Homo sapiens: one gene and its partners. The protein of the gene in region 7 purifies or fractionates together with the protein of the main gene of each other region. This does not show direct contact. Each region holds a gene or a part of one and is shown on either strand. Other genes may lie near its edges. The genes, in order: NUP50, ZMYM1, APBA1, KCNA5, LIN7C, LIN7A and DLG1.

What was found.
Region 1: the proteins of DLG1 (region 7) and NUP50 fractionate together in Homo sapiens (co-fractionation; one large-scale study listed by BioGRID). This does not show direct contact.
Region 2: the proteins of DLG1 (region 7) and ZMYM1 purify together in Homo sapiens (co-immunoprecipitation; one large-scale study listed by IntAct). This does not show direct contact.
Region 3: the proteins of DLG1 (region 7) and APBA1 purify together in Homo sapiens (affinity purification with western blotting; 2 studies listed by BioGRID and IntAct, with this or other methods). This does not show direct contact.
Region 4: the proteins of DLG1 (region 7) and KCNA5 purify together in Homo sapiens (affinity purification with western blotting; 2 studies listed by BioGRID). This does not show direct contact.
Region 5: the proteins of DLG1 (region 7) and LIN7C purify together in Homo sapiens (affinity purification with mass spectrometry; 6 studies listed by BioGRID and IntAct, with this or other methods). This does not show direct contact.
Region 6: the proteins of DLG1 (region 7) and LIN7A purify together in Homo sapiens (affinity purification with western blotting; 2 studies listed by BioGRID and IntAct, with this or other methods). This does not show direct contact.

Annotation. Positions count from the first base shown.
Region 1 is NC_000022.11:45,166,270-45,170,775, reverse strand, and holds part of NUP50 (nuclear pore complex protein Nup50), read right to left. Parts: intron 4,497-4,506; exon of another isoform or gene 4,346-4,496; intron 2,611-4,345; exon of another isoform or gene 2,609-2,610; 5' UTR 2,599-2,608; coding exon 2,530-2,598; intron 1-2,529. UniProt on the Homo sapiens protein: Component of the nuclear pore complex that has a direct role in nuclear protein import. Actively displaces NLSs from importin-alpha, and facilitates disassembly of the importin-alpha:beta-cargo complex and importin recycling.
Region 2 is NC_000001.11:35,109,695-35,113,687, reverse strand, and holds part of ZMYM1 (zinc finger MYM-type protein 1), read right to left. Parts: intron 3,395-3,993; coding exon 3,241-3,394; intron 1,917-3,240; coding exon 1,776-1,916; intron 1,602-1,775; coding exon 1,558-1,601; intron 712-1,557; coding exon 1-711.
Region 3 is NC_000009.12:69,518,181-69,522,686, forward strand, and holds part of APBA1 (amyloid-beta A4 precursor protein-binding family A member 1), read right to left. Parts: intron 1-4,506. UniProt on the Homo sapiens protein: Putative function in synaptic vesicle exocytosis by binding to Munc18-1, an essential component of the synaptic vesicle exocytotic machinery. May modulate processing of the amyloid-beta precursor protein (APP) and hence formation of APP-beta.
Region 4 is NC_000012.12:5,041,825-5,047,111, forward strand, and holds KCNA5 (potassium voltage-gated channel subfamily A member 5), read left to right. Parts: upstream 1-2,054; 5' UTR 2,055-2,323; coding exon 2,324-4,165; 3' UTR 4,166-4,964; downstream 4,965-5,287. UniProt on the Homo sapiens protein: Voltage-gated potassium channel that mediates transmembrane potassium transport in excitable membranes. Forms tetrameric potassium-selective channels through which potassium ions pass in accordance with their electrochemical gradient.
Region 5 is NC_000011.10:27,493,408-27,497,265, forward strand, and holds the end of LIN7C (protein lin-7 homolog C), read right to left. Parts: 3' UTR 1,011-3,858; downstream 1-1,010. UniProt on the Homo sapiens protein: Plays a role in establishing and maintaining the asymmetric distribution of channels and receptors at the plasma membrane of polarized cells.
Region 6 is NC_000012.12:80,926,929-80,931,434, forward strand, and holds part of LIN7A (protein lin-7 homolog A), read right to left. Parts: intron 1-4,506. UniProt on the Homo sapiens protein: Plays a role in establishing and maintaining the asymmetric distribution of channels and receptors at the plasma membrane of polarized cells.
Region 7 is NC_000003.12:197,043,208-197,047,713, forward strand, and holds part of DLG1 (disks large homolog 1), read right to left. Parts: intron 1,523-4,506; coding exon 1,416-1,522; 3' UTR 1-1,415. UniProt on the Homo sapiens protein: Essential multidomain scaffolding protein required for normal development. Recruits channels, receptors and signaling molecules to discrete plasma membrane domains in polarized cells.

The DNA of each region.
Region 1 (4,506 bases), on a different chromosome or scaffold from region 7:
TCTAAGCAAATAGTTACATGGTAATCTAGATGTTACTATAGCCCAGAATGTAACTGTGCTTAAGATCTTAAACCAACAACAACAAAAAACCAAAAACCCCCATAACCAAAGATTTTAGTTAAAAAGCACCAAATCAGTTTTGACCCTGTCAAAACACTCACATCCTTGGGATTCTGGTTTCCCTAAACATATGTGAGGAGATACACTTGTAGAGAAAAAAAGTACTAGTACCAGAAAGATTCCAAAAGAAGGAAGATGGCCGTCTAAGAATAAGCTTGGAAACAGTTGCAGTTTTAACATTTTTCTTTTTTCACTTAGCACTATGCTGTTAACCTGAAAGTCGTGGTTACAGATTTCCTTAGTCATCTGGCCTGGGGGTAACACACTGCTGATAAGGTACGACTGTAGAGTCCAGCCCTACTGGGCTTTGCGGGTGTTCTCCTCGAAGGGGGAAACAGAGATTGTAAGAAATAAAGACACAAGACAAAGAGATAAAGAGAAAACAGCTGGGCCTGGGGGACTACTACCACCAAGACACGGAGACCGGCAGTGGCCCTGAATGGCTGGGCGTGCTGATATTTATTGCATACAAGACAAGGGAGCAGGGTGAGGAGGATGAGTCGTCCAGGGGATTGACAAGGTCAAGCAAGTCACGTGATCATGGGACAGGGGCCCTTCCCTTTTAGGTAGCTGAAGCAGAGAAGGAAGGCGGCGTACGTCAGCATTTTCTTCTATGCACTTATCAGAAAGATCAAAGACTTTAAAACTTTCACTATTTCTTCTACTGCTATCTACTAAGAACTTCAAAGAGGAACCAGGACTACGGGAGGAGCATGAATGTGGACAAGGAGTGTGACCACTGAAGCACAGCACCACAGGGAGGGGTTCAAGCCTCTGGATGACTACTGGCAAGCCTGGACAATATCCAATCTCCCACAAGAAGGTGGTGGAGCAGAGTGTTCCCTGACTCCTCCAAGTAAAGGAGACTCCCTTTCACGGTCTACTAAGTAACAGGTGCCTTCCCAGGCACTGGCGTTACCACTTGACCAAGGAGCCCTCAAGCGGCCCTTATGCGGGCGTGACAGAGGGCTGGCTCACCTCTTGCCTTCTAGGTCACTTCTCACAATGTCCCTTCAGCACCTGACCCTGTATCTGCCGGTTATTCCTTGGTTATATTAGTAGTACAACAAAGAGTAATATTAAAAGCTAATGACTAGTAATGTTTATACTAATGATTGATAATGCCCGTGATCATCTCTGTATCTAATTTGTATTATGACTATTCTTATTCTAACTATTTTATGTATTATACTGAAACAGTTTGTGCCTTCAGTCTCTTGCCTCGGCACCTGGGTAATCCTTCGCCCACATCCTATAAGTACAGCTGTGTTTTATTCTTTGTTTTTTAGACAGGGTCTCACCCTGTTGCCCAGGCTGGAGTGCAGTGGTGCAATCACAGGTCACAGCAGCCTTGAACTCCTGGGCTCAAGCAAACCTCCCGCCTCAGCTTCCCAAATTGCTGTGACTATAGGCTCATGCCACCATGTTCAGCTAATTAAAACAATTTTTTGGGGGGTTGGGTGCGGTGGTTCTCGCCTGTAATCCCAGCACTTTGGGAGGCCAAGGCGGGTGGATCACTTGAGGTCAGGAGTTTGAGACCAGTCTGACCAACATGGTGAATCCCTGTCTCTACTAAAAATACAAAAATTAGCTGGGTGTGGTGGTGTACACCTGTAATCCCAGCTACTCGGGAGGCTGAGGCAGGAGAATCACTTGAACCCGGGAGATAAAAGTTGCAGTGAGCCGAGGTTGTGCCACCGCACTCCAGCCTGGGCAACAGGGTGAGACTCTGTCTCAAAAAAAAAAAAAAAAAAAAATTTTTTTTATAGAGACCGGGATCTCTCTATGCTGCCCAGTCCTACTGTTTATAAGGGAAAAATGATCAGATTTCCTCAGGGGAGACCATTTTTATTCTGCTGGAAAAGGAACTAGGCCAATCTCAATTCTATTCCTATAAATGCAATTGTTAGGGGTCTCAGGTCTACCATTAAGAAAAGGAAATAAAGCAGGCCTCCAAGAAGCATTAGGGAAACGGAGTACCACAGACCAAGATGGTGATGGTGTACCACTTTCACATCTGGGCAGTGTGCTAAGTTCATGACTACATCACTTAACTCAGCCTTCAGTCATGACTAAAATGGCTTACTGCAAACATGGGTTCAGAATGCTTCAAGTATACGAAACTCAGGAGGAAAAGTGCTTCTACTAAGGAGAATATTTAAGGAGCAGGCACTAGTGGAAAAGCACATCTAAATGTAATTAATACATTTCTACACTAACTAGAGGTCACAGAAATGTAATTAATAAATATCTACACTAAGTACAGGTCATATAATTTCTTGTCATCTCCCATTCATGATGTTCTTAGAAAGGTCTTTTAGTTCTGTCACAAGTCTTCATGAGGAACCCCAAAATGAATGTAAAAGGCAAAAGAAACAGGAAATCATTCTTAGGGAAGCTGCTTTTTACCTCTTCAGCTTCATCTTCTTGATCCCAATTCCTATCTGTCAGTTCCTTCTCGGCATTTCTTTTGGCCATGTTTTCGAACCTAAGTTATAGAAAACAGAAGAGTTTATTTTTCTAGAAGAATAAATTCTTATAAAGAATTTTAAAAATTCACTCTAGCATGAAGTGAGATAAAAACATCTCTGGTTTTTTTATCAGGGAAAAAAAGCATCTGGAAACTGCTTTAATGAGAACTTTACATTGGTGCTGTTAGGCTCCCAGTGTTACAAATCAATAAAGGCTTTTTCCAGGAGGCAGAAGAAGATTCCTAGGGAACACCAGCAGTCCTGAACAACACTAAACCGACTCCATTTGGAAAAATTAAAATGAAATATCAATTGATTTTTTAAAAATCTGGAATCTGAAGTACTGTATATATAATCAAAAAGTCCTTAACTTATTCTACGCATATACATACTGAAAGTCTTGTCATAAAGAAAATAATTTTAATATTTAAAATTCTCTTAAAGATGACCCATTAAAGAAGTGTATCTTTCAGTAAGAATACGAATAACGGGCTGGAAACGCCTCCACAACACGAATACTGTTCTTTAAGCTACAGCCGACAGAGATACATGGTTCCCAAGACTGAACATTTTGTTGCTTCAAATTGTATATTGCCAAGACAATTAGAAGTCCAAAATGATTAACATGGGTGTGTTAGTATTCTGGGAACTTATAACCTTTCAAAAACAAATCATTGGCTTAACTCTTCAATACGATGGCATTAGTGGAAGGGGCAGGAGTTGGGGAACGGCGTGAACTCTGCAGTGGATTCCGGCACCTAACCAAAGAGGGTGCTCCTGTCCATCCCTTAAAATTTACGATTTGTTTTCTGATCTTAATATCATAACAACAAAACAAAGAAAACCCACAACCCAGAGCTCCGCTATGAGTGTTGTGCTGCCTTCTTCACTAACTCTCCAGCTGGACAAAAAACCTTTCCATTTCCCCTGCTACCCACCTCGCCCAAAAACTTACTGATTAGTTTTGGGGACCTGCCAGGTCTTGTTAAACCTGCCTGAACTCCTTCGTGATACTCTCCCCACTCTTGTTTGCTCTCAACACCACAATACACCAGAGTAAGCTTCCTTATTCTGGTGTATTGTGTAATACAGAGTGTATTACAACCCCACAAAGTGGTCGCTAAGATATGAGGTGACATATCACTCTTTAGTATCTAAAAGTAAAATGCAAATGCTGGTATTCCAAAGGCCTCTACAATTTGATGGCCAGTGGAGTAATTACATACGGGCTGTCAGCTTTTAATACATTTTAGTGATTTTTAAATTTTGTAAGTTTATGCTATTTTTCTGATTACAAATGATATTAAAGTCCAAGATTCTAAAATATAAAGGATGAGAAATAAATACACTTTCCATTCGCTGGGAACCCTCTCTTTTTAATGTCCACCCAAAAACACTTGGTTAAGTTTTGCCATTAATCTTTGTCATACAAACAAAAACAAATACAGGAATAGACATAATTCTTTACTGTGCAGAAACCAGGTCTCTGTACGGATTCTTTTTGGCAATTTTCCTACTCATTAACTAATGTCTCCACCAGAGGGTTGGAGAAGTAAGAAGTCACCAACGGTCACGTTTGCTATTTAAGATTAACTGTGGGGCCAGCGAAGTGCCTCACGCCTGTAATCCCAGCACTTTGGGAGGCCAAGGTGGGCAGATCACTTGAGGTCAGGAGTTTGAGACCAGCCTGGCCAACATGGTGAAACCCCGTCTCTACTAAAAATAAAAAAATTAGCTGGGCGTGGTGGTGGCACCTGTAATCCCAGCTACTCCGGAGGCTGAGGCAGGAGAATCTCTTGAACCCAGGAGGTGGAGGTTGCAGTGAGCTGAGATCGCGCCAATGCACTCCAGCCTATGTGACAGAGCAAGACTCCATCTCAAAAAAAAAAAAAAAAAAAAAAGAAAAAGAAAAAAA
Region 2 (3,993 bases), on a different chromosome or scaffold from region 7:
ACTTTGAATTTGTGTACTGTTATAGAAGTCAACTTGTGAATTCATAAGTCGAAATGTTTCTTCTCCTTTATCTTTTGCTCTCATTTCTAACAATTCTAAAAAATTGCCTTTATTCACAGATGAAACTGACTGGTCGTTTCCTCTTAAGGGTAAACACTGCTTTCCAAGAAATAAAATATTTTCAATTATAAGCTTTAGGTACTTTTTATTTCCCTCAATCTGTTTCGAATGAATAGATAAATCGTCACTGACAGCTCCATCACAAAATTGGTATTCTCTCCAAAATTCCAATGACTTCAAATGCATTTCACTTTTTTCATGCTTTCTGAATTTTTCCAGGGTTTTTTTCCAATTAGAAGTTCCGTGGGTTGCAAATGACTCTCTTCCACAGCTAAAATATTTTTGGCAGAACAACTGGCATGAATAACAGAATGCCACATCTTTTTTACTGTTTTCCAAACACTCAAAATCTGCACAACAAGATTTTTTAATACTTCGTGATTTACCTTTAACTTTTTGTACTTTGGATGTACATTTTGGGTGACATAGTTCATCACTTATTTTCATAGATTTCATATTGTCTTTTTGTACTTCTGTACTGGAACCAATTGCATGCTGACTGAATACTGATGAAGATGGTGAAACGCTTGGCTGTTCCGTACTACTACTAGCAACAGCATTACTGGGTTCACTAGGTGAACTCTTAGAAAGCTTTGGGAGAAAATGAGAAAAGAACATTTAACAGTTTTCAAAAATTAATTAAAATATCAAATATATCTACTCTAATAACATAGTAAAATAAATGGCTGAGTTACAGTATGAGCTCCACTAGGGGGAAACGTTAACAATTACGTATAACTTATTTATTTGCAATCTAGATTCAGCATTAAATGTTTGAAGGACCTTTTGGTATGTAATTGTCATAAAAATAATTTTTATTGCTCAGATGACTCAAATTGTGTAGTATTTTTTTAAAAGAAGAACCCAGAGGAAAAAAATACTTCTGTTTAAACAATCTACAAACATACACACACACCCCATATATGAATACATAATACATAAAATATATATTAAATATATAAATATAATATATAATAAATATACATTATAATATATTTATATTATATACAATATATTATAATATATTTATATTATATATTTATATTTTTATATATTATAGTATATATTATATATATATATAAAAAATCTGGGCCAGGTGTGGTGGCTCATGCCTGTAATCCCAGCACTTTGGGAGGCCAAGGTGGGCGGATCACCTGAGGCCAGCAGTTCGAGACCAGGTTGGCCAACATGGTGAAACCCCTTCTCTACTAAAAATACAAAAATTAACTGGGCATGGTAGCAGGCGCTGGTAATCCCAGCTACTCAGGAGGCTGAGGCAGGAGAATCGCTTGAACCCAGGAGGCAAAGGTTGCAGTGAGCTGAGATCACGCCACTGCACTCCAGCTTGGGTGGCAGAGCGAGACTCTGTCTCAACAACAACAACAACAAAAATCTGCTTATTAAAAAAAGACAGTGGTAAAAAAAGTTAAAACTTACATCCACAATGACATCTGCTGTTGCTGTTACTGAAGAAACTGTATCTGTTAAAATAGAGCATAAATTCAAGATCTTATATACTATAACCTATAAAATAGCATCATAAACTATATTTGCTTATTTCATATAAGAAACAAAAAGAAAATTTAGCATATAGACAGATTTATCAAGTATGACAAAACAATATTTATGTCAAATATCTTAACATCAACTTTTACCTTGTAAGACATCAGTGTTCATGATGGGCAAGGCAACATCGGTGTCTGCCAATGACACTATATTGCTTATAACTGGAGTCGTATCTTTCTTTGGAGAAAGAAGCTCTGTTGAAGTATCATGCACCACAGAAACAACACTTACTGACAACAATAAAAAGATTTCTTATAAACAAGGCAAAATCAATCATCAGAAAGTACTGTTTAGTAATACTGTTTAAAGAAATAATGCAAGCATCTAATAGCTTAAGGAATTGGTAGGTACTGAAGTAATTTTTATTAGGGCTTAGGAATAGCCAGGTTCTTTAGTATCGTATTTATAATTACAACATTACACTGAAAATTTACACTTCTCCAACATTTTATGTCTTTTACCTTTGTACACAATTTCCCAGTCCTTTTAAAGAATTTGTTTAAAATTATGAGCAAATTTTTCTGTGAAATTACTCATGAAGAAAAGAGATTCTGATTGAATCTCCTAATGGGCATCTATTTCAAACTCTTCCAGGATTCATAAACCTTAACATCAATGGAGCGCTAGGTTGGTGCCCAAGCCACTATTGCAGAAATTTCTGTAACAAGCCAGTTTGTATGACTTACAAATCCCAGAGGCATTAGTCACTCTATGGTCTATGTAAATAGCACCACTGGTCCTACATGAGGCTTTTTGATGGAATACTTAGTTGGCTCAGATTATTTGTGCTTTTTTATTATTGAGTCTTAAAGCATTTACAATCACTTCTATTTCATGTGAAAAATGTAATGAAAACTTGTTTTTACAAAACAGGGCTAAGTAAAACATTCTATATTCTAATAAAAGCAGTCTTGTAAATGTATTAAACTCTATATTGACCAAGTGCCTCCTATGTACCATGTTTTGCAGTAGGTGCTCAATATATATTGATGTAAACATACATATATTCATTTACTAAATAATCTAAAAAAAGACATGTATCTTTTAATTTTTATTATTATTATTTTTGAGATGGAGTCTCACTCTGTCACCCAGACTGGAGTGCAATGGTGCGATCTCGGCTCACTGCAACCTCCACCACCCAGGTTCAAATGATTCTCCTGTCTCAGCCTCCTAAGTAGCTGGGACTACAGGGACCCACCAACACGCCCAGCTAATTTTTTTTGTATTTTTAGTAGAGACGGGGTTTCAACATGTTGCCCAGGCTGGTCTCAAACTCCTGACCTCAGGCGATCTGCCCACTTTGGCCTCCCAAAGTGCTGGGAATACAGGCATGAGCCACCGTGCTTGGCCTACAAATATTAAATCTCTGGTGGTAAAGTAGCCTTCCTTTTATACAAAAATACTGAAAAACAGTTCTTTGCAACAAGTTTAGATTGTTTTGACTTTTAAAAGTCGGTTTAATTTGAAAATGAATCAAGGTTATAAATTAAAGTCAAATAATATTATTTATTAATAATTACTAAACCCCTACAATTGCTAAACAAACATTACCTGAAGAAGATTCCATCTTAGCTTTACTGTATGCAGAGAAACAATTAATAGAGCAGAAAAGCTCTGTCTTCCCCAAATCACTCGTAGTCTCAATCATTTCATCTGAGGGCTTCAATGGTTTGCAAGGAACAGATATAAGTGGTTTGGCAGGTTTCTGTTTAGAGATTAAAATAATATTCATATTCCTGGTATATGATATGTTGTTAATGAAGAAGAACCTATTACCACTGCTTTTAGTTGGAATATTAAAAAGAATAACAATTAAGACAGTTTTTACATTTTCTTAAAAAGACACTACAGATTGCAATAACTAAAAGAATATTGGCAAATCTGAAAATGATTTTTATTATTTATCAGATATATTTAACAGCAATAATAATAATACCTATGAAAGCAGTAAGGCCAGGTGCAGTGGCTCATGCATGTAATCCCAGCACTTTGGGAGGCCAAAGCAGGCAGATCACCTGAGGTCAGGAGTTCGAGACCAGCCTGGCCAACATAGTGAAATCCCGTCTCTACTAAAAATACAAAAAATTAGCTAGGTGTAGTGGCGAGCGCCTGTAATCACAGTTACTCAGGAGGCTGAGGCAGGAGAATCACTTGAACCTGGGTGGCAGAGGTTGCAGTGAGCTGAGATTGTGACACTGCACTCCAGCCTGGGCAACAAGAGTGAAACTCCTTTTCAAGGGAAAAAAAAAAAAGCAATGAAGAAAGTGGTCACAGAAGTTCATTTCAGGCAGTCAAAGCCTACTG
Region 3 (4,506 bases), on a different chromosome or scaffold from region 7:
TAACAACAATTTATATAGCATTTATATTGTATTAGGTATTATGAGAAATCTAGAGATGATTTACAGTATATGGGAGGATGTGCATAGATCATATGCAAATACTATACCATTTTATAATGGATTTTTATATCCACTGGGGTCCTGAAACCAACCCCCATGGATACCAAGGGAGGACTATATTCACTTTCCCCATGTAACCTGAATCTAAAATTCTAAGATTTTATGAGTTGCCATTATAGCTAGAACTGGATAACAGGTGTAATTTTTTAAAAATATGGGTAGGTCTCTTTCTATTTTCAGAGAAACTTGTAGCTCGAGAGAAAGATTTGGTTTCAGTCTCTCTCAATTCTTCTTATCACAAAATAGCTTTATGGTATAATCTGTGCAGTATATAGAAATAGACACAAAGAATGTAAACAACCACAACAAAACAGGCAGGACCCCTATGATTTTGAGATCCCTATGGTAAATAGGCTCAACAGTATGTGTAAACTTGCTATTATGTTCTTTTGGAGAGCCTTTCTTACAAATGGACACAATGGATGGGAAGTGAACTCTTAAATATGATAACAGACAACCCCAGGAGGACCAGGGACATCTGATGGACTCTCTAGTAGTGAGATGCATTATATTCTACTCAACTCCCCATCACAACCACAGCAATTTCCTTCAAGCATTGATGACCATCCCAATAACAAAGGAGATCATTTTGGAGCTACCAAGTCCACATTCAAGCAGAAGTATCATGTCTTCCCCATTCTTTGATGGATCCACCCCTGACTGATTCTCGCTAGAAGAAAAGAATCACGGTTTACAAGAGATGAACAATCTTTATTGCTTCGCTACTTGACATAAGTCCCACTTGATACAAATTAGACCCAACCTCTTTTGAAAAATTTTGGGCTCCTCCCATTAACTCCTGAGAACAGCGACTGTGGACTAAGTATAAGAAAGTCTCCAAAAGCAAGTATGAATCTCCCTTCAAACCTTGATGGATGGTTAAGGCTGTAAACCAGCAGCAGGGTGGGGTGGGGAATGATTAGAAGCTGTTCCACCTCAGATCATGAGGCATTAGTTAGATTTTCATAAGAGTGCATGACCTAGATCCTTTGCATGTGCAGTTCACAATAGAGTTCATGCTCCAATACTGGTCCATGGCCCAGTGGTTGGGGACCCCTGCTCTAAACAGAAGCAGCAAGTGTTGCTGCTACGGGCCTCCAGTGGATTATAAGAAACACAAAACAAATATTCAATTCAATACAACACATGGACAAGAACATCATACCCAAGTTGCCTTCATAAGGACTTTCTCAAAAAGACAACAGATAAACCTTCATTAAATCTACATTGGGTTCTTAAGGTACAAATCTAATTCTAATAAACACAAAGTGAGCATTCACAGAAAGGGATAGCAAACATATCACAGACTTTCTTGGGTTCTGTTACCCAGAGGTGTCACAGTTGTGTGTGGTCAGCGTAAGAAAAACAGTAACAAAAACCACAGAAAGTACCTGAATGACCAACAATTCATGATAACCATATGTGGAACTGACCAAAATGCTGCCTTCAGGGAAAATGGCTGTTCTTTAGCTTGATGAAAATCTATTGACATATGTATTAAAAAGAAATTTTAGCTTATTCTGGGTTAAAATCGGTGAATGGTGCCCTCTTATAACCCATGTATTGATTCAAAGGAAATGGAACTTCCTTGCGTGTATATACACTAAACTGTGGTAAAGGAAGTTCTCTGGTGGGGCAGGGGGTGGTGGAAGATAGTGTTAATGTAGTTTTGGTACAATAGATCTTTTTGTTCACTAAGTACCTTCTCCTTATACCCCCATCCACAGACCTCACGGGAGTATTTACACATACAGTGTTTGTATTTTACACACCATCATGTTTCCAAGAATATGATTTGGGTTGTGGTATTGCAACATGTTAATGAATAACAGACATTGACTTTGGGGGTTTCCCTAGGACAAAAAGGCAATTGTCAACTTTTAAGGAAGGAGCCGAAGTTGATGCTTAGGTTTATCCCTACACACAAGAGGACTGTTCTCCATACGCTGGCAACTTTGGGAGTGGTATTTATAAAAAACATTTAAGCTGCTTTTTAAAAATCCTAGGTTATTGTGGGAGTATATTATTGGTACAAAATTTTTGAAAAGCAATTTGGCAAGATGAATTAAATTCTTCAAAAGGTAACATACCTTTTGCCCCAGTAATTCTACATATAGAAGTCTAAAAGAAAAAACTTGAATGTGGACAAAAATGTTTCTCACAGTATTTTCTTCAAAAGCAAAAATTTTAAACACCAAATATTAAGCGCTAATATTTATTAGGTACTGATAAGTACAATGCTAATCATATTAGGGTTATATTGTGATCAGAAAGATGTGGGGGTTTTCTCTCTGGGAAGCTCCACCTGGAGTTCCCATAACACTTCAACTCAGCCAGCCACAGCTGAAGAAATCACACCTCCTCACCTTCCCTACCCACCCTCGCTCTCAAACTGGGTTCCCTCCTGTATTTCCCATATGGGCAAATGGTACCACCAGCCACCCACTGAATCATCTCCTTCCCTTATCTCCCTCCTCAAACTGATGCCAGAGTCCACTGTCTTAATAACTCTTGGATCAGTCTTGCTGCCACTGCTTTGTCTTGGTCTGTCTTGACTACCTGGTTGTTTCCTTGACTCTGATTTATCAGCCCCCTCCAGTCCATCCTCCCCACTGCCAGCCTGATGATCTTTAAAAAATACAAATCTGAATCCCATAACCCTACTCCTCAAACTCTTCAGTGATTCCCTTCTAGGGCACAGTATAAATGCTTAGCTAACTATGTCCCAGGTACTACTAGGCATTTTCCACGTGACACATTTAACCTTCACACTAGCTAATGAAGAGTACTGCCATTATCAGCTCTTCTGAAAATGAAGAAACAAGTGATTAGAAAGGTTAGGTGATTGTCCCAGGTCACACATCTGGTAAGGGAGGCCCCCTGACATTTGATCTTTGCACTCTAGCTCTGGGGTCTGGGCTCTTGAGTCCTATTCCTGGCCAACAAAGACCTTGGGATGCTTCACCCCTTTAGTCCATCTCCACACTTCATCCCGCACCCTGCATTCTAACAGCCAAAGTCCTGGTGTTGGCCCTAACTGCCCTCCCTATTCATGGCATATTTTAACCTATAACTTTTCTTTGGTGAATCTTTCTTGTCTTCCCCAGGCCACATTCATACTTGATGAATGTTAATTAGGTGCCAGCCTCCAGGCACATTCGAGGCACTGGGGCAGAACAGTGAGCAAGCCAGAGGAGGCTTCCCTGCTTTCAGGAAGTCCCCATTCTAGTGCACTGGGTCGGGGGTCAGAGGGAAAAAAGGGCAGACAATAATTATGTAAGTAAGTAAACAAGATAACTTCATAGGGAAACATTTTATGAAGGTAATACAAAACAGAGTAACGCCATAGAAAATGACTGAGGAGAGGACATTATGTAGATATTATTCAAAGAATGAGATATTTGAGTTGAGGTCTGAATAATCAAGAAAGAGGTGGCCTTGTGAAGATCTGAGGGCAAGGGCTTTGAGGTGAGAAAGGATCAGCTGTGTTCAAGGACAGAAATAATGTTTGTAGGCAGGTGTGGCGTGAGTAAGGGACAGTGTGATGGGCGATGAGGACAAAGAGATGGAAAGGGGCTGAGTTGGGCAGGGTCTGGTACATCATGGTAAAGGATGTGGATTTTATTTCAAGTGTGGTGGCATGCTACTGGGGAGTTTAAGCAGGGGATTGATAAGGCCCAACTAAGCCTCCCTTTGTGCCCGCTGTGCTTTTTCTCTCTCTCCCTTTCCCTTTCTCTCTCCGTCTCACACATACTCACACCATTTTATACACACACACACACACACATATATAAATTATATATATATATATGTGTGTGTGTATATATATAAAATTTATCATGGCTTCTATCATTCTGAGTGGTAATTCTTTGTAAGTATCAAGTCCTTAAGAAAAAGATGTTTTGTCATGTATCTTTGATTTTCTGATGCCAAGCACAGAGGGTATACAGAAGGTGGTAAAGGAATTTTTAGTAACTGAAAAAGGAAAAATCTTTATCCCCCACCCCTCCCACCCAATAGTTGGGGCCTTATAGACTTCTAGACATTGGCATGATCAGCCTTTGGAGAAGAACTCATTTCTTCTTTCTATCTTAAATCTTTGCTGCCCTTATTCACTCATGCAAACTCCTTCAACTTCTTCTAATGCTTTAAGTGCCTAAAGAATGCAAATGATTCAACATTCTCCTGCATCTGAGTGTGTTAATCCAATGGGCATTTATCAGACATGTACCAGTCACTGTGCAAGGCAAAGGGGATGTAAAAGTTTCTAAACTATGGTTTAGGGCAGACAGCTCTGACAGTTATGATACCTGGTGATAAGTGCAAAATAGAAATATACTCAAGATACAAAAGCAGCCCAGAGTTAAAACAATGACAACAATTGTA
Region 4 (5,287 bases), on a different chromosome or scaffold from region 7:
AAGCCCCTGAAAGACAAGCTCCAGAGAATTCTTTCCTCTGGGGAGCCCGAGGAGAACCCAGGTGAACCAATGTAGCATCCTTATATTTACAAGATGCATGAATCAGTAGACAAGACTGTCATGGGTCTCTGACCTCACTGTCTGCAAGCTCAGTAAGTCCCAGGCTCCCCAGGAAAAATACCTGATCCTGACTGGCAACCTCAGAGCCAGAGAAGAATGAAAGCCCACTGGAGATGAAGCAGGGATGGCACAGATATGGGGAAAGGGGATGCAAGGCCCTGTGGTTAACCAGTGATGCCTTCACATACTGATTTTCATGTTCATACCCTTCCTCACTCATGCACGTCTGCAAAGACAGCCAACAATATGCACAGTCACACAGAATGAAAATACTTACGCACACCAAATTCACATCCACCTTCACATATAAACTCTTAAAAAGCCATATGCACACATACTTCTCAAACCTTGACCCAAGTTTGTGTGTCTATGCGCTGCTATTGCAACACACACTTGTGCACCCAGGACCAAGTTTCCAAATCACACCCTTTGGATAGAGACATTCATTGACAAGAGGTCCTAACTTCACGCATATAAATCTGAAGCAATATGCAGAAACAAAAATAGACAATGAAAACAGACATTCAAAAACACAGCCACTTTATGATAATTTAAAACCAAGAAACTTCTGGAGACTGTGTCTGGCAGTTCCAGACACACACCTTGAAACAGATTCCTCTTGGTTACCAATGCCTGCTAAAACCCTGCAGGGGTTGAGACAGGGCAGGGGAAGATTTCCTAGTGTCCCAACCTAGAAAGATTAATATGTTATATCAGCCATCATCCTGCCTTCTGCAGCAGGGAACTAAAGTTCTCAGGCCAGATGTTGGAGTGAGGGAGTGCTTGTATCAGGAAAAGGGATTATGCATTTCTATAGAGGAGTGAAATATAGGGGACAAGGGCCAAACTCTGATTGTTTGAGTTTGAGTTCCAGCATCATCAGTTTCCACCTGCATAAGCCTGGGTGAGTCTGTCAATCTCTCTGTGCCTCAGTTTCTTCATTTATAAAATGGTGATGATAATAGTACTTACAAAATAGGTTGCTGTAGGAATACACAGAGACAATATTTGTAAAGTGCTGAGAGTGGGCTGGTGCATAATGAGAGCCAAGTAAGTATTGGTTGTTATTATTCCATTCTTGGGAATGCTCCAGCCTTGGAGATTGGACAACCTCCCTGGCTCCCTCTCATAAGCCACCTCCACCCTCAGTCTCCTTCATGGACCTAGATGCAGTTGCTCGGTCCAAGATTCACCAGGCAGGATTAGCCCTCACCAGGATTGTAAAAATCGCTTCTCCCCTTCCCTGCTGTGGTTTTTGCAAATGGGATTCGTTGGAGCGGGTGGAGGGGTTCTGCTGGGTTGAGACCAGACAGCTCATCTCCTGACTAGGCTGCTTGCCTGGGCTGCCACCAGGTCTGTACTGGAAACAGGCTAGGGCATGGGAATCCTGCAGGGTTCCAACCCCCTTGTACATTTTTGTGGATCTGTAGGAAGACGGGAAGAGAGATGCTTCTCCATTGATACATGTATTTCAAGGTCCGTAACTACGTGGCCCCCCTCCCTTCTGTAATCCTTCCCAAAGAAATACCGTTATTTCTCCAAAATAAAAAGGACTGGTGTCTCCCGTCTCTGTCTCTCATACTCCGACTCAGCTCAAAGCCTCGTCCCTTTAGCCCAAGGCACTTCGTTCCTCCTGGAGTCCACTCGGCTTCCAGCGGGTTCCCAGGTGAACTGAAATCCAGAGCTATTCTCATCTGGTTGCCCTGGGAATTTCAGCGCTGTCGGTACAACCTGTTCCTCCATCCTCCCCACTCCTTCCCTCCCTCCGCTGGGCTGCACCCTTCTCAGCCCCTCCTTTCCCTTGCTAGGGGCCCCAGCTGCGCCCTCCGGGGAGACACCCGCTGCCACGAGACCCGGGAGGGGAAGCGGGAGGAGGGGGAGAGGAGGGGAAGGCGGGGGAGGCGCCGAGGGTGGAGGCCAAGCGCGGCGCAGCCAGAGAGGGGCGGCTGAAGGTTGCATCTGCTGGAAGGAGGCTTTTCGGCTGCTTGGTAACGGGCTGCCAGAAGAGAGAGAGGCAGAGAGCAGGGCAGCGGCTTCTTGACGTCAGGGCCAAGCGAGGGGATCGCGCCAGCAACCCCAGCTCTCCCCAGAGAGGGGCCGGCCGACCGCTGGAGCGGAGCCTGACGCCAGGCGCCCGCGGAGCGTGAGTAGGGGGCGCGGGAGCCGGTCAGCTGGGGCGCAGCATGCCCTCTGCTCCCGCGCCATGGAGATCGCCCTGGTGCCCCTGGAGAACGGCGGTGCCATGACCGTCAGAGGAGGCGATGAGGCCCGGGCAGGCTGCGGCCAGGCCACAGGGGGAGAGCTCCAGTGTCCCCCGACGGCTGGGCTCAGCGATGGGCCCAAGGAGCCGGCGCCAAAGGGGCGCGGCGCGCAGAGAGACGCGGACTCGGGAGTGCGGCCCTTGCCTCCGCTGCCGGACCCGGGAGTGCGGCCCTTGCCTCCGCTGCCAGAGGAGCTGCCACGGCCTCGACGGCCGCCTCCCGAGGACGAGGAGGAAGAAGGCGATCCCGGCCTGGGCACGGTGGAGGACCAGGCTCTGGGCACGGCGTCCCTGCACCACCAGCGCGTCCACATCAACATCTCCGGGCTGCGCTTTGAGACGCAGCTGGGCACCCTGGCGCAGTTCCCCAACACACTCCTGGGGGACCCCGCCAAGCGCCTGCGCTACTTCGACCCCCTGAGGAACGAGTACTTCTTCGACCGCAACCGGCCCAGCTTCGACGGTATCCTCTACTACTACCAGTCCGGGGGCCGCCTGCGGAGGCCGGTCAACGTCTCCCTGGACGTGTTCGCGGACGAGATACGCTTCTACCAGCTGGGGGACGAGGCCATGGAGCGCTTCCGCGAGGATGAGGGCTTCATTAAAGAAGAGGAGAAGCCCCTGCCCCGCAACGAGTTCCAGCGCCAGGTGTGGCTTATCTTCGAGTATCCGGAGAGCTCTGGGTCCGCGCGGGCCATCGCCATCGTCTCGGTCTTGGTTATCCTCATCTCCATCATCACCTTCTGCTTGGAGACCCTGCCTGAGTTCAGGGATGAACGTGAGCTGCTCCGCCACCCTCCGGCGCCCCACCAGCCTCCCGCGCCCGCCCCTGGGGCCAACGGCAGCGGGGTCATGGCCCCGCCCTCTGGCCCTACGGTGGCACCGCTCCTGCCCAGGACCCTGGCCGACCCCTTCTTCATCGTGGAGACCACGTGCGTCATCTGGTTCACCTTCGAGCTGCTCGTGCGCTTCTTCGCCTGCCCCAGCAAGGCAGGGTTCTCCCGGAACATCATGAACATCATCGATGTGGTGGCCATCTTCCCCTACTTCATCACCCTGGGCACCGAACTGGCAGAGCAGCAGCCAGGGGGTGGAGGAGGCGGCCAGAATGGGCAGCAGGCCATGTCCCTGGCCATCCTCCGAGTCATCCGCCTGGTCCGGGTGTTCCGCATCTTCAAGCTCTCCCGCCACTCCAAGGGGCTGCAGATCCTGGGCAAGACCTTGCAGGCCTCCATGAGGGAGCTGGGGCTGCTCATCTTCTTCCTCTTCATCGGGGTCATCCTCTTCTCCAGTGCCGTCTACTTCGCAGAGGCTGACAACCAGGGAACCCATTTCTCTAGCATCCCTGACGCCTTCTGGTGGGCAGTGGTCACCATGACCACTGTGGGCTACGGGGACATGAGGCCCATCACTGTTGGGGGCAAGATCGTGGGCTCGCTGTGTGCCATCGCCGGGGTCCTCACCATTGCCCTGCCTGTGCCCGTCATCGTCTCCAACTTCAACTACTTCTACCACCGGGAAACGGATCACGAGGAGCCGGCAGTCCTTAAGGAAGAGCAGGGCACTCAGAGCCAGGGGCCGGGGCTGGACAGAGGAGTCCAGCGGAAGGTCAGCGGGAGCAGGGGATCCTTCTGCAAGGCTGGGGGGACCCTGGAGAATGCAGACAGTGCCCGAAGGGGCAGCTGCCCCCTAGAGAAGTGTAACGTCAAGGCCAAGAGCAACGTGGACTTGCGGAGGTCCCTTTATGCCCTCTGCCTGGACACCAGCCGGGAAACAGATTTGTGAAAGGAGATTCAGGCAGACTGGTGGCAGTGGAGTAGGGAATGGGAGGCTTGCTGAACATGGATATCTACATTATACCGCAGAGTATTTGAAGTCACACTGTAACCTCAGTCTACCCCTCTCCTTTCACTCCTTTCCTCCCTCCCTCGATCCCCCCATTTTCTCTATTCTTTCCATGACACCCAAGGGTCGCCTATTTTTAAAAAGTACCACATTCCATGACGCAGGAGCTGTGGAAATGGTGAGCGCTGTGAGATGGATGTATTTGTAGCCAGTCTCCTATACCCAGCAGAGGGATAACCCAAACAAAAATGACTCTAAATAGCCCAGATCCCAAGAGATTATGTAACTCCTCCATCCATGTGTTCCAAATTTGCTTTACATATGATTGTATTTGTGTATAGGGGAAAATATTATTTTTATGCCTGGTAAGTGGCTTTTTGTACTGTAGTTCAGATAGAGATATTTTGGGTATATTTTCAAGATACATGTTGTATTTATGGAAGAAAGAGTTGTCCTGATGTTTTTCTGTGTTACTTATATTAGAGTCAGAGATCTTGGTATGGGCTGTTCTGTTTCCTGTGTCTCCAAGCCTCTGTCTTTTCTGGGATGTGGTATTGGTGCTTTGTGTCTAGGGCAGAGTATGTTCTTGAAGAAAGGCAAATCTGACTTTTTCTGTGCGCCTTAAACAATTCTTGTAACTTTCTTCAAAAAGCATTTTAATGATATTGGAGGAATACTTCTGATAATTTATTGTCTTTATTTTTATCCCAGGAAATAAAAGGTTACCTTGTTGAGGCAAGTGTTAGTTTTTCTGCAGCTGATACATTTTCTGAAATTTTTAAAAATAGTCTGTCACTGGCTGTTTCTGGTTTTGACATCAGAGCAAACGCATTGACTGGGGTTAGAGGAAATCTGAAAAGCTCATGATTTGCTTGGCGACGTCTTTTCAGTGCACCCCTTGGTGCCTCATAGACAATGGTGGGTGAATTTTGTCCAGGCTGTTTATGGCACGGACGCCCCTGTGAGATGCTCTCTGAAGCAGTAGTATCAGCCCTTATGGTCAGCCTGGAGTAGGGAGGGCACTTAAAGGAAAAAGGGGATCAGACCCCTGACAGTCTTATT
Region 5 (3,858 bases), on a different chromosome or scaffold from region 7:
AGTGTGGATGATTTCTCATTCTAACCAATAGGTATTGTTCATGAGAATTAGGAGAGGCCTTACATATACCTTGTTAAAATGAAGTATTTGTCCCTTTAAAATTTAAAATTCAAAAAATAAAATTGACAAATGGGTTCTGTATGAATTTACCTTTTGCCCTGTATATAAAGTAAATCTTCAAGATTCCATCAGGGAGATTATCTGCCACTAATAAGTAAACGTACAAAATATGGGTCAGCAATTCATTATAGTAAAATCAGAATAATCAAAATAGTGAATATAACAAAACCCGAATAGAAAAATTTAGTGAATGGATACTCTGGTCTACTAAAGTTTTGAAAAAAACTGAGTCCTAACACTAAATGCTTTTTGTTGTTCCTCGGCTGTGTGGCACATTTCCACACTTTTTTAAAGTTAATGGTGGTGATGCCTTGGACTGTCTAACACCTAGTCCAGTAGTCTCCTGTCTCTATGCCTAGGTCATCACCTTAAAGGTTAATTTAACAAATCCTTACTTGGACTTATTTTCCAATGATTTTCATTAGAATATGGCTTCAATCCTCAAAGCTCCAATTTAAAAATTCCGAGTTTCTTTGATCAAAATATAAATTTGATAATTTCTTATGAATCTTATTCTTCTAAAGTTTTTAAGCATAAAGGTTGTTTTCTAAATACCAAAAATAAAAACTTGCTAATTTTAATTTTTTGACCAGAATTATTTCCTTTAGCTCATAAGGTTCTGAAGCTATTTTACATGAACAAAAGCAAACACAAACAGTATTTACTATGCCAGGCACCTTTTTAAGGGCCTTACAGAAAATGGCATGACACTTACAGGCATTCTTATTAACAAATGACAGGTGAGGGAACTAAGGCACAAAGAAATCAAGCAACCTGTCTAAGGTGACACACGGTAATGGTGGAACTGGGATTGAAACCAGAGTTGTTTGGCTTCAGAATCTGTGCTCTCAATCACGTCATACTGCCGCTCTTGAAATAACACAAGAAAATGTTTTCTTTAAATTTTATGAAAGACAAAGCAAAATATAGAAATTCAAAGTTTCATTTCAGCAGCCACCAGGAATTATGTTTTTTTATACATACCTTTCATAAACGTTATCTATTGTGTAGTTATATCAACTTTTTTCAAATCCAAAGAACGAGGACATAACTCATACAAATTTATTTTAAATAAGCCTTAAAATCAGAATTAAATTGATAAATGAAGTAATCTATTGAAAAATGTTATTTTACATCCATTCTGGGTATTACCACAAATTTTAAAAGTAGAAGCATAGCATTTGCCAGTTATTTTAAAAAACCGAGTCAATACAAATTAGTCTCAAAGTTCTTGAAAATTAATAAGTGATTTTTCTCACTACTTAACCATACCTGGAATAACCTTTGAAGAAACACTACTAGCAAACTTTAGACAACAATTATAAAACCAGATTGTTGGCAGAGGACACAACAAAATGTAAGTTAGAAAATTCATAAACATACATTTATTCAGGAAATACAATTACTAGAATCCTTGATATTTCAATGATCATTCCACATTATAAAATATTCACAAACATGTAGTTTTTTAAGTCTACACCAGGTCATGCTGACATTCTTTTTGGATAAGCCATAACCATTTCTTCTATTAAATGCTATAATATCCATTTTAATTGTAAACAAAGTACTTGAGCCAGACTACTTAAGTACTTGAGCAAAATAACTTAAAAAAATCTTAAGAGGAGGAGGACAATGATATTTTTTAAAAACATATTTGAGGCTGGGCATGGTGGCTCACGCCAGTAATTCCAGCACTTTGGGAGGCCGAGGCGGGCGAATCACGAGGTCAGGAGATCGAGATCATCCTGGCTAACACGGTGAAACCCCGTCTCTACTAAAAATACAAAAAAATTAGCCGGGAGAGGTGGCACACGCCTGTAGTCCTAGCTACTCGGGAGGCTGAGGCAGGAGAATTGCTTGAACTGCCTTGAGGTGGCGGAGGCTGAAGTGAGCCGAGATCACACCACTGCACGCCAGCCTGGGCAACAGAGCAAGACTCTGTCTCAAAAAAAAACAAAAACAAAAAACAAAAAAAAAATTTGAATCGTCAAATCCTAAAGAACTAGGCTGCTATTATCTAGTATTATACTAACAAATGAAGTGCCCACATTAAGACAGTACATAATTATTAACGACAATATTTCTCATCTGCAATTTTTAAACATGCTTTCTCAAATAACAAACACGTATTTTTGTAAGTTTTAAAGGCAAAGGGGGCAGAATGATGACAGACATAAAAAGCTCACATTTAAATTACTGGTAGATTTTATTAAAAAAAAGAAAAAAGAAAAAAAAAGATAAGACTGTAATTACTTCCCAAATAAGGAATGCCAAGTACCTTTTATTCCTAAAAGAAATTACTTGGCCAGGTGCAGTGGCTCACGCCTATAATCCTAATGCTTTGGGAGGCTGAGGTGGAAGCCAAGGAGTTTCAGGCTGCAGTGAGCTATGATCACACCACTGTGTTCCAGCCTGGGAGACAAAGCAAGATCCTGTCTCTTTTAAAACAAAAAACAAACAAACCAAAAAAAAAACAAAAAAAAAACCTAAGAAATGTAATTAATCATTAAGTAGCTGCAAATTGAACTGTTCTATTTTGATACTTCCTAAGAGTGTCCAGTGTAATCAGATCATTTTATAATGGGTTATTGACCCTAGGTGTCCTTTAGAACCACCTGGAAAGCTTTACAAAAAAAAAAAAAAGGGTGATTTTGATTTAGTTGTTATGGAATAGGACCCAGGTATCAATTTTTTAAAGCTCTGCCAGGCTAATATGTAGCTAAGATTGAGAATCACTAAGTCAACACATTTTGATATATCAAGAAAATAAATGGAAATGGGGGTGATAATTTATATTTGTAATTTACAAATCAAACATCTATCATACACTTACTATGTACCTAGTTTTATTCACGAATCATCCATTTCTAAGATAAAAATTCCCATCATTTCCTCACTGCACTAAACCACCACTGTACATCTTTGCCAATGAATGACTGTATTTTTCTATGGTCAAGATTTAAAATTCTGGGATACATTATGAAAACTGCATTAATGAAAACAACCTACTGCTATTCATGCTCAACAGTAGCAAGCTAAACTACTGTACTTGGCTCCTTTGAGCTACCCTTATTTTAAGAATTATAAATAGGTGTCAACCCACACAAAGAACAGATTGTGGATTACCGTAGGGAAAAAAATAGCTTACTCAACTTACTAAAAGTTTCAACACCAAAAAAGATTTAACTTGGCTGAAAGTTCTGAAACAGCTGAGACACAGAACCAGGAAGCTATAATTTATAATGAAATGTTGATACATACTTAAAAGCTACTGCAGCTGTAGCTATACTAAAATAAGATTTCTTCAGGGTTTACTTACCCTGAAATGCAAGAATACAAGCATAACAATAATATTACTGTTTTTATATGCACCAATACCTCTCTTTAATATATAAAGCTCTACAACAAATACCTCTAATAATTTTACAATTAAATTAAGTCCATACTTCTATACTACTTTGGTCTCAACATTTTTAAAACATCAATTAATTTTGAAAATTTACAATTTAACAACATGATCCTATCAATAACAAGCACATTTTGTAGTGGATTAAAGACACATTCAACCATGCAATCCAGTGTTCAATACCTTAATGATAAATAACAATGCTGATTGACTTTTATTTTGAAAAATCATTGAAAACTGGAATAATCATCTGAGACTCACAGTGATCACAAACATGCAGAAAAAAGCATACAATTCTATTCTTCCTGAAGGAATGTTACAAAATGCCCACT
Region 6 (4,506 bases), on a different chromosome or scaffold from region 7:
AAAAAAAAAAAAAAAAAAAAAAAATTGACATTGGCGGCATTTCATGCCTAGTGTTTGTCAAGTTAAGGAAGTCCTCTACTTAGAGATTACTAAAAGTTGTTTTTTAATCAGATATTAATGTTATCTTTCATCACATGCCTTTATCAATATATACTAAAATGATATGGTTTTTCTCCTTTAATCTGTTAGTGTAAAGAGTTACAGTAAACTATTTTCTTTTCTTTTTCTTTTTTTTTTTTTTTTTTTTTTTTGAGACGGAGTCTCGCTCCGTCGCCCAGGCTGGAGTGCAGTGGCGTGATCTCGGCTCATTGCAAGCTCCGCCTTCCGGCTTCAGGCGATTCACCTGCCTCAGCCTCCCGAGTAGCTGGGACTACAGGCGCCCGCCACCGCGCCCAGCTAATTTTTTGTATTTTTAGCAGAGACGGGGTTTCACCGTGGTCTGGAGCTCCTGACCTCGTGATCTGCCCGCCTTGGCCTCCCAAAGTGCTGGGATTGCAGGCGTGAGCCACCACGCCCGGCCACAGTAAATTATTTTCTAAGGTTGAACTATCCTACTTTTTTGGACACTGATGGTTCTCAACTAGATGGGATAGAACTGCCTTTAAAAAGGGAATGTGGAAATTCATTGGGTATTTTCAGTTAACACAGTGTGATTCAAGCTGGCATTTAGCTCCTGGGAACTAAGGATACCAAACCTCTTATATGACAAATAAACTTAGCGCCCTAACTACCAATGGTGTCTCAGTTGAGAAAAACTGCTAACTGTGAATTTGTTTTTCATCATTTTTTTAAAATTATACTTTAAGTTCTAGGGTACATGTGCACAATGTGCAGGTTTGTTACATAGGTATACATGTGCCACGTTGGTTTGCTGCACCCGTCAACTCGTCATTTACATTAGGTATTTCTCCTCAAGCTATCCCTCCCCATCCCCCCACCTCCCCACAGGCCTGGCTGTGTGATGTTCCCCACCCTGTGTCCATGTGTTCTCATTGTTCAATTCCCATCTATGAGTGAGAATATGCGGTGTTTGGTTTTCTGTCCTTGTGATAGTTTGCTGAGAATGATGGTTTCCAGCTTCATCCATGTCCCTGCAAAGGACATCAACTCATCCTTTTTTATGGCTGCATAGTATTCCATGGTGTATATGTGCCACATTTTCTTAATCCAGTCTATCATTGATGGACATTTGGGTTGGTTCCAAGTCTTTGCTGTTGTGAATAGTGCTGCAATAAACATACATGTGCATGTGTCTTTATAGTAGCATGATTTATAATCCTTTGGATATATACTCAGTAATGGGATCGCTGGGTCAAATAGCATTTCTAGTTCTAGATCCTTGAGGGATCGCCACACTGTCTTCCACAATGGTTGAACCAATTTACACTCCCACCAAGAGTGTAAAAGTGTTCCTATTTCTCCACATCCTCTCCAGCATCTGTTTCCTGACTTTTTAATGATCGCCATTCTAACTGGTGTGAGATGGCATCCCATTGTGGATTTGATTTGCATTTCTCTGATGACCAGTGATGACATTCACGTGTCTGTTGGCTGCATAAATGTCTTCTTTTGAGGAATGTCTGTTCATATCTTTTTCCCATTTTTTGATGGGGTTGTTTGTTTTTTTCTTGTAAATTTGTTTCTTTGTAGATTCTGGATATTAGTCTTTTGTCAGATGGGTAGATTGCAAAAATTTTCTCCCATTCTGTAGGTTGCCTGTTCTCTCTGATGATAGTTTCTTTTGCTGTTCAGGAGCTCTTTAGTTTAAGTAGATCCCATTTGTCTATTTTGGCTTTTGTTGCCATTTGCTTTTGGTGTTTTAGTCATGAAGTCTTTGCCCATGCCTATGCCCTGAATGGTATTGCCTAGGTTTTCTTCTAGGGTTTTTTATGATTTTAGGTCTTACATTTAAGTCTTTAATCCATCTTGAGTTAATTTTTGTATTGTATTGAGTTTAATTTTCATCATGTTTTAAAACTTATTATTAACATGATTAATATACCAATACAGTTATTCTAATATCTTTTAAATAATCCCTGCTAGGGTATGCTGTATTAGTGTTTTTCTACATTATTAATATTAACTAGTTTTATATTTAATTTTCCAGAGAGTTTTTATAATATTTTGATAATTTAATCACACTGCTCATGATGAATTTATTATTATGTTGGTGCAAAAGTAATTGCAGTCTTTGATATTACCTTCAATGGCAAAAACCTCAATTACTTTTGCACCAACCTAATAAATAAAGTCCTCAATCTTTTCCAAATAAAATACTCTTAAACCAGATTATTCCAGTCAGACACCAGTACAATCAATATGCAATCAGCATTCTAATTTGATTCAATCTAATAAATGAAGGCTACATTCATTTCCTCTAAATTTTATCTCTTTTATTGTAACCTGCCATTCAAGCTAGGAATAATTTTAGAATATTGGTAGGGTTGGCCAAATTATTTGTTATTCCTCCTAGCTTAGTCACCTGTAAAGTTTGTTAAAATATATTCTATGGTGCTCATTCAAAATATTGGTAACAGTGCCAAACAAGACCATGAACCAAACTTCCTTGGAGAAGTGTTTCTACTAGAAATCCAACAATGCAATCATCCACTTTATGTATTTCCACATTTTCCACAAGGTGTCTGTGAGAGTTGTGGGGTCATGAATATATAATGAGACTATGACATATGTCTGAACTTCTGCAATGTCTACTCTTAGTGATTTTCCACGTAGCCTCTGGGATCACCACTTTCTTTTCTAAGTGCCAATATCTCATTCTTTTAAATATATATATGTACACACACACACACATTTTATATATATTTTAAAATATATATATGGGCCAAGAGGCAACAAATAGATTGCCCTATAGTTTCCCAAAACACCTTTGTCATCTTTTTGGAAGCCAGGTTATTTGTCCATCAGCAATTACTGCTCTTCTCCAATTTTCCTCAAAAATCACTTTCAGCAGTCCCTCAACTATATTCCCCAATTTTTTCTTCATTATTGTTAAATAGACCCAGCTGTGATTTCATGCTATGTTTCTCCATCTATCTTGTGGGTTTAAATCTTATAGCCATGTTGTGACTCCCATTATTCTATCTTTTTTTAGTTAAAGGTAATCCTTTGATTAATTTAAAAACAAAAGATGTTATATTGAAATATAACTATCTCCACACTGGGCAAGTAAACAAAAGTTGCACAAACAGTTAGACTTGGACTAGCTATATTGTTTCTAAGGAAAATTACCATCAATGGAAATTAGACACCCTAGCTTTATGTCCAAGATAGGTAGATACTTGAATATAACTACAAAATAAGTTTCAATCCCTCATGATTTTTTTCAAGTGGTTTTCAGGCATATTTATTTTTATTGGACAAGTGTTTGAATTCAGTTAGTATATTACTTAGCAAAATTCAATCTTTTTTTTTAAAGATCTCAATTGAATAAACCAGAACTAAGGCATGGATGAAATTAACACAATTTTTAAGGTTAAGTTCACATTTGGTAGTGCAGAGTGAGTTCAAGTTAAATCCATTTTAATTTGTTTATTAGGACATAGTTCTGTCATTCATGTATTTATGGTTAAAAAAATTGAAAAGCGTAGCTTATATATATGTGTGTGGAGGGGGGCAATTCTATAGCAACTCCACCCATTTAAAAAACCTTTTCAGTTGTATTCTGACATTAGCTCGTGCGATTCAATTCATAAGTTAAAACAGCAGGGTAAATGCAGACAACTGAAACAGGGCTATGACTATCAAAACCAACACCTCACATTCTTTCTTGGCCCTTGAGAGCACTACACTTGTAGGAGCCAGCTACATACACAGAGAGGCAAAGTGACATCCTAAGGTAGCCACTACTTTTCATTATTTTAGGTTAGAAGGCTTTTGTTTTGTTTTGTTTTGTTGCATTAAGAATAATCCATGACAGCTAAGTCTTGCTAAGCCAATTTTATTCATTCATTCACTCATTCAATCAACAAATACAAAGAGCGTGCCAACTATGTGCCACACAATGTGCTGGGTTCTACATAAACAAACCCGACATGGTCTCTGACCTGATGGAAAGTATATCCTAACAGGCAAATGTCATGACTTTAAGAAAAGAACTCAAAGAGATACTGGCATTGTGCATATAACACCATCTCTAATACCCAGGACACCTTCCTGTTTGATAGTACTCCCTAGATGTTTTCTTTCCTCTACTTAAGAGCTAGGCCTTAGTTGTGATCCCTGAAAAACAACACTCATAAGCAAGAGCATTAATTTCATAACTGACAGGAGCACACCAAATACATTTCAGGGCTCGGATGAATGACACACCAAACTAGAAAGGATTCACCAAATTTCTTATTTTTGTAACCAAAATGCTTTAGAGATTTGAGTCATTCTCTTTGTAACTTTTAATTATCAAATAAAAAACAGGCTGGGTGCAGTGGCTCTTGCTTGTCATTCCAGCACTTTGGGAGGCTGAGGCACGCGCATCACCTGAGGTCAGGA
Region 7 (4,506 bases):
GATGAAAGCTGTCTGAGGGGAAAACACACACATAAATGGGGCTTTTGCCTGCCTTCCTATTAATAAAAGGAGAACTAGAAGGAAAGGGCAAGGACCAAAATCAAACCTGATGACAAGAACAACAGTAACAACACGGACAACAACAAAAAACCTCAGGAACCATTTGAAAACCTTTGTAGAAAAGAGGAGAATATGCCCACACTTTTACTTATAATCTAATTTCCCTAAATGTTTCCTCCTCATGACCACCATGCCCCCATTTTCAGTTCACATGATTAAGGAAGATAAGTCTATTCAATTAATATTTAATTTAAAAACCAAACAAAAAGTTAGGAGTAGGTGGCAAAAGAAACAAAATATATTTTAAATATATATATATGTTTGTGTGTGTGCGCAACTATGTAAAGAAAATAATTCCCATAGTTACAGTTTAAAGAAAGTTTTATATATATATTTATATATATTTTATTATAACAAAATAGGCAGCTATTGTGGGTAAAATATTCAGTAAAATCTGACTCCTAAGAATACATTTGAAGTTTTAGGCTATGAATTGGACTCCTTTCCATTGCCATGATGGTTACTACGTCACCACTGTAACGTCTGATTTATCTGTATTTATATCTAGGAAATTTTCTCAATCTTCTGTGTAAAAGGCGAACTTCCTTAGCACCTGAACATGGCCTCAATTCACGAAATGTGATGATCATTTACATATGAACAACTTTTGTAAGACACGATAGTGTTGCTCAAGTAGATTAAAAACATTGAAACGTTGTTATTCCTAGCAAATGTCCTGGGAAAAAAGAACCGTCAAATACTAAAAGGCTTTAAGAATGTTGAGGAAAAAATGAAATCCCTTATGAAAGTCAACTCAGACATGAATTTTTAAATTAAAAAATGTCCTTATTTATCTATAATGAAACAATTGCTTTGATGATAGAAGTTGATTGAGAAAAGGACTTGAGAGTAATACACTGGCCAAACCATGCTATTAAACTGAAGCGTGCACAGTTGCTCAAAGTCTACTAAATCACTGATTAAAACCACTTTTTCATTTGTACTGAAATTTGAAAAGAATGTATATAAAGCTTTTCCAAAAATCTCTTAAAGTTACTTTCCCTTAAACATTAAGGAATTTTACCACAATTTCTGCGTCTCCCCACGTTCTTAATAGCTGGTCAGGCCATTCCATCTTCAGTTCTGAAAAATGGCCACTAACCAATAGTGACATTAAATAATACACACGATGTAACTTGAAGGAGACACTACATGTGAAAAAGAAGCTGCAGACCATGATGTGTGGGATACAATTCAACATGAAATCAGTACTCAAGAAAGACTCCAGAGGAAAGGGCAAAGAGATGCCAAAGAAAATGGAATTGTGGAAAAGAGAAACAGAGAAACATGAGTTTTCATAGCTTTTCTTTTGCCGGAACCCAGATGTAAGAACCAGATTGTTCTTCTATGATCTGTTTCACTTGGTTGTAAATGTCTTCCAGCGTATCCCCCTGTACAATAGCTGTAATGATAGAAACAAAATCAGAAATCTCCATTAATTGTCTATTTTTGCCATTACAATTATTGATGAAATAGTAGAAGCTAGTATCTTTGAAAAAGTTACTCATCCAGGAAGAATCACCATTTACACACTGTTCACTTAGGAAAAAAGGCTCACTTCATTAATTTTCCTATTTATATAGTATAAAATTTTTATCTTAAAAATGGATCAAAAAGTAAGACTTGGAGATCTTTTCTTTTGTTCTTTTACCATCTGAGCATATATTAGCTTTATTATTTTAAAACAAATTATTTTCTTAACTTTCCTGATTTCTCCATAAACATATGTAGAAAAAAGGAAACTGGGTACAATCCCATAGACAGGATGATGTAAGGATAATTTTTTTTTTTTTTGGGGTAGGATCTTGGGGGAAAAGAGCTGATTACAGATTGATACTACTTTTTTCAGTTAAGCTAGCATGTCAGGTACTGTAGTGTAGGTGAATTGAGAGATACCTAAGCTAGCTTGTTAGTGGTTAGAGACTTAACAATCAATGTTTATTTGCTGTCTGAAATAATGTGTGAAAAAAAGAGTAACAATTACTAACAACTAATTCTTTGGGAATAGCTGAAGCCCCTGAGGTCTGTGAGGGATTAGTTAATAAAGCAAACAAACAAACAAAAACAAAGTATCGCTAGACAGCACTAAGCATGAGTAACTAACTTTTTAAGAAAGAAAGAAAATGTTTATGGTTGGGCATGGTGGCTCATGCCTGCAATCCTAGCACTTTGGGAGGCTGAAGTGGGAGGGTTGCTTGAGGCTAGGAGTTTGAGATCAGCCTGGGGAACATAGTGAGACCCTGTGTATTTAAAAAAAAAAAAAAATAGCTGGGCATGGTGGTGTGTGTCTGTAATCCTGGCTACTTGGGAGGCTGAGACAGGAGGATGATCTCTTGAGCCCAGGAGTTCACAACTGCAGTGAGCTATGATCGTACCATTGGATTGTACCATTTGCCTGGGTGACAGAGTGGAACCTTGTGTCTCGTAAAAAAGTTTACATATAAATGAAATAATTGAGAATTGCAAATTAAATAAGTCACTTACTAAACTACAAAAAAATGCCCAGTGATCTTGGAAGAGCATCATAGGTGTAGATTTCCATGGTCTGAAAAACTGAGCATAAAATGTCAAAGGGGGATTTTAAATAATACTGTCTATTTGGTACCTGAGATGATGTGCATAGAAGAAAGACGTTGTATGTAGGTAGGAAGCACTTATACATAGCTAGGAACGCCTGAATAACCAAGAATTTTCAGTAACATGATATTCGCTAGTATCAGTTTTGTGAGACTTCTACCTTTTGAGCTAAATGCAGACATGCCTCAATGTCCCTGAAGACTCAGTTCATTTGACAAAATACTTGGTTCGTGGGTTTGGCATCTTGATGCACCCCAACAGCACAGGACAGAATCCCAGAGCATTTCATAGTTTAGGTTGACAACAGCACGCAAGGATTTATTTTAGAGCATTTCATAGTTTAGGTTGACAACAGCACGCAAGGATTTATTTTAGGAGAAAACAGTCAGGAACTGACTTGGGAAATATACATTTTGCTTACTTTGTAAATTCATTAATGGAATGGTTAGTAAACCAGGGAAACTGGGAAAGCATAAGGCTGCAGACACCTTAACCATGTGATTAAAATTAGCATCATAAGTAACGGCACAAGTAGACTTTGTAAACCTCCTTGCATGATACACAGAGGACACATCATTACTTCATTGCTATTCCTGCCCCAAATGCAGAACCTAAATCGAATTATGAGAAAACATCAGATAAATCCAAATTGAGGGAGGGACATTTTATAAAAGAATGGGTCTTTGGCCGGGTGCAGTGGCTCACGCCTGTAGTCCCACCACTTTGGGAGGTCAAGGTGAAGGTGGGCGGATTGGATGAGTTTGAGACCAGCCTGGGCAACATGGCGAAATCCTGTCTCTACAAAAAATACAAAAATTAGCTGGGCATGTTGGCTGTAGCCTGTAGTCCCAGCTCCTTGGGAGGCTGAGGTGGGAGGATCACTTGAGCCTGGGAGGTGGAGGTTCCAGTGAACTGAGATCGCACCATTGCACTCCAGCCTGGGTGACAGAGTGAGACCCTGGCTCAAAAAAAAACAAAAGACAAAAAACAAAACGAAACAAAAAACAAAACGAAACAAAAAACAACAAAAAATCCCCCCTAGTGTTTTTACTCTTAAAAAATGTCAGTCAGGGTCATGAATAACAAGACTTGGGAACGATTTCAGATTAAAGAACATTAAGGATGTGATAATCCAATACAGCACGTGAGCCTCCGCTGGATCCTGCACCAGAACAGAAAAACCATTTTTTTCCATTTTGCTCTAAAGAGATTAGAAGAATAGTGAAATACTAATAAGATCTATAGTTAGATGAGACATATAATTATTAAATTTCCTGATTTTGATAATAAAACTATGATTCTATAAGGGAATATCCCTGTTTTTTAGAAAATACACACTGAAATATTTAGAAGTAAAGGGACATCTACCTGAAACTTACTCTCAAGTGTATCAGAAAAAAACCTATAAATGTGGTAAAATGTTAACACTTGAGGAATTTGGGTGAAGGGTACATGAAACTCCCTGTACTATTCTTGTAACTTCTATTTAAGTCTGAAATTAGTTTGAAAAAAATAAGAAAGCACAAGGTTTAAAAACCATGACCCTTACTGATACTCAGTGTGAATGTCAAATTTAGGCTGATATTATTTCAAACAAACAAGTAACAACAACAAAAATGTCCAAAGACTTGAGGAGGAAGTTAAAGGACAAGGCGAGTAAAATAAGAATATTGGGGAGTTGCTACCTACTTTTTTTTTTTTTAAACAAATAGTATTTCAAAACGGATCAAAGGGCAACTAATCATTAAAAAGGGGCCAAGACTACACAATAGGGAAAGGCTAGTGTCTTAAATAAATGGTGCTGGAAAA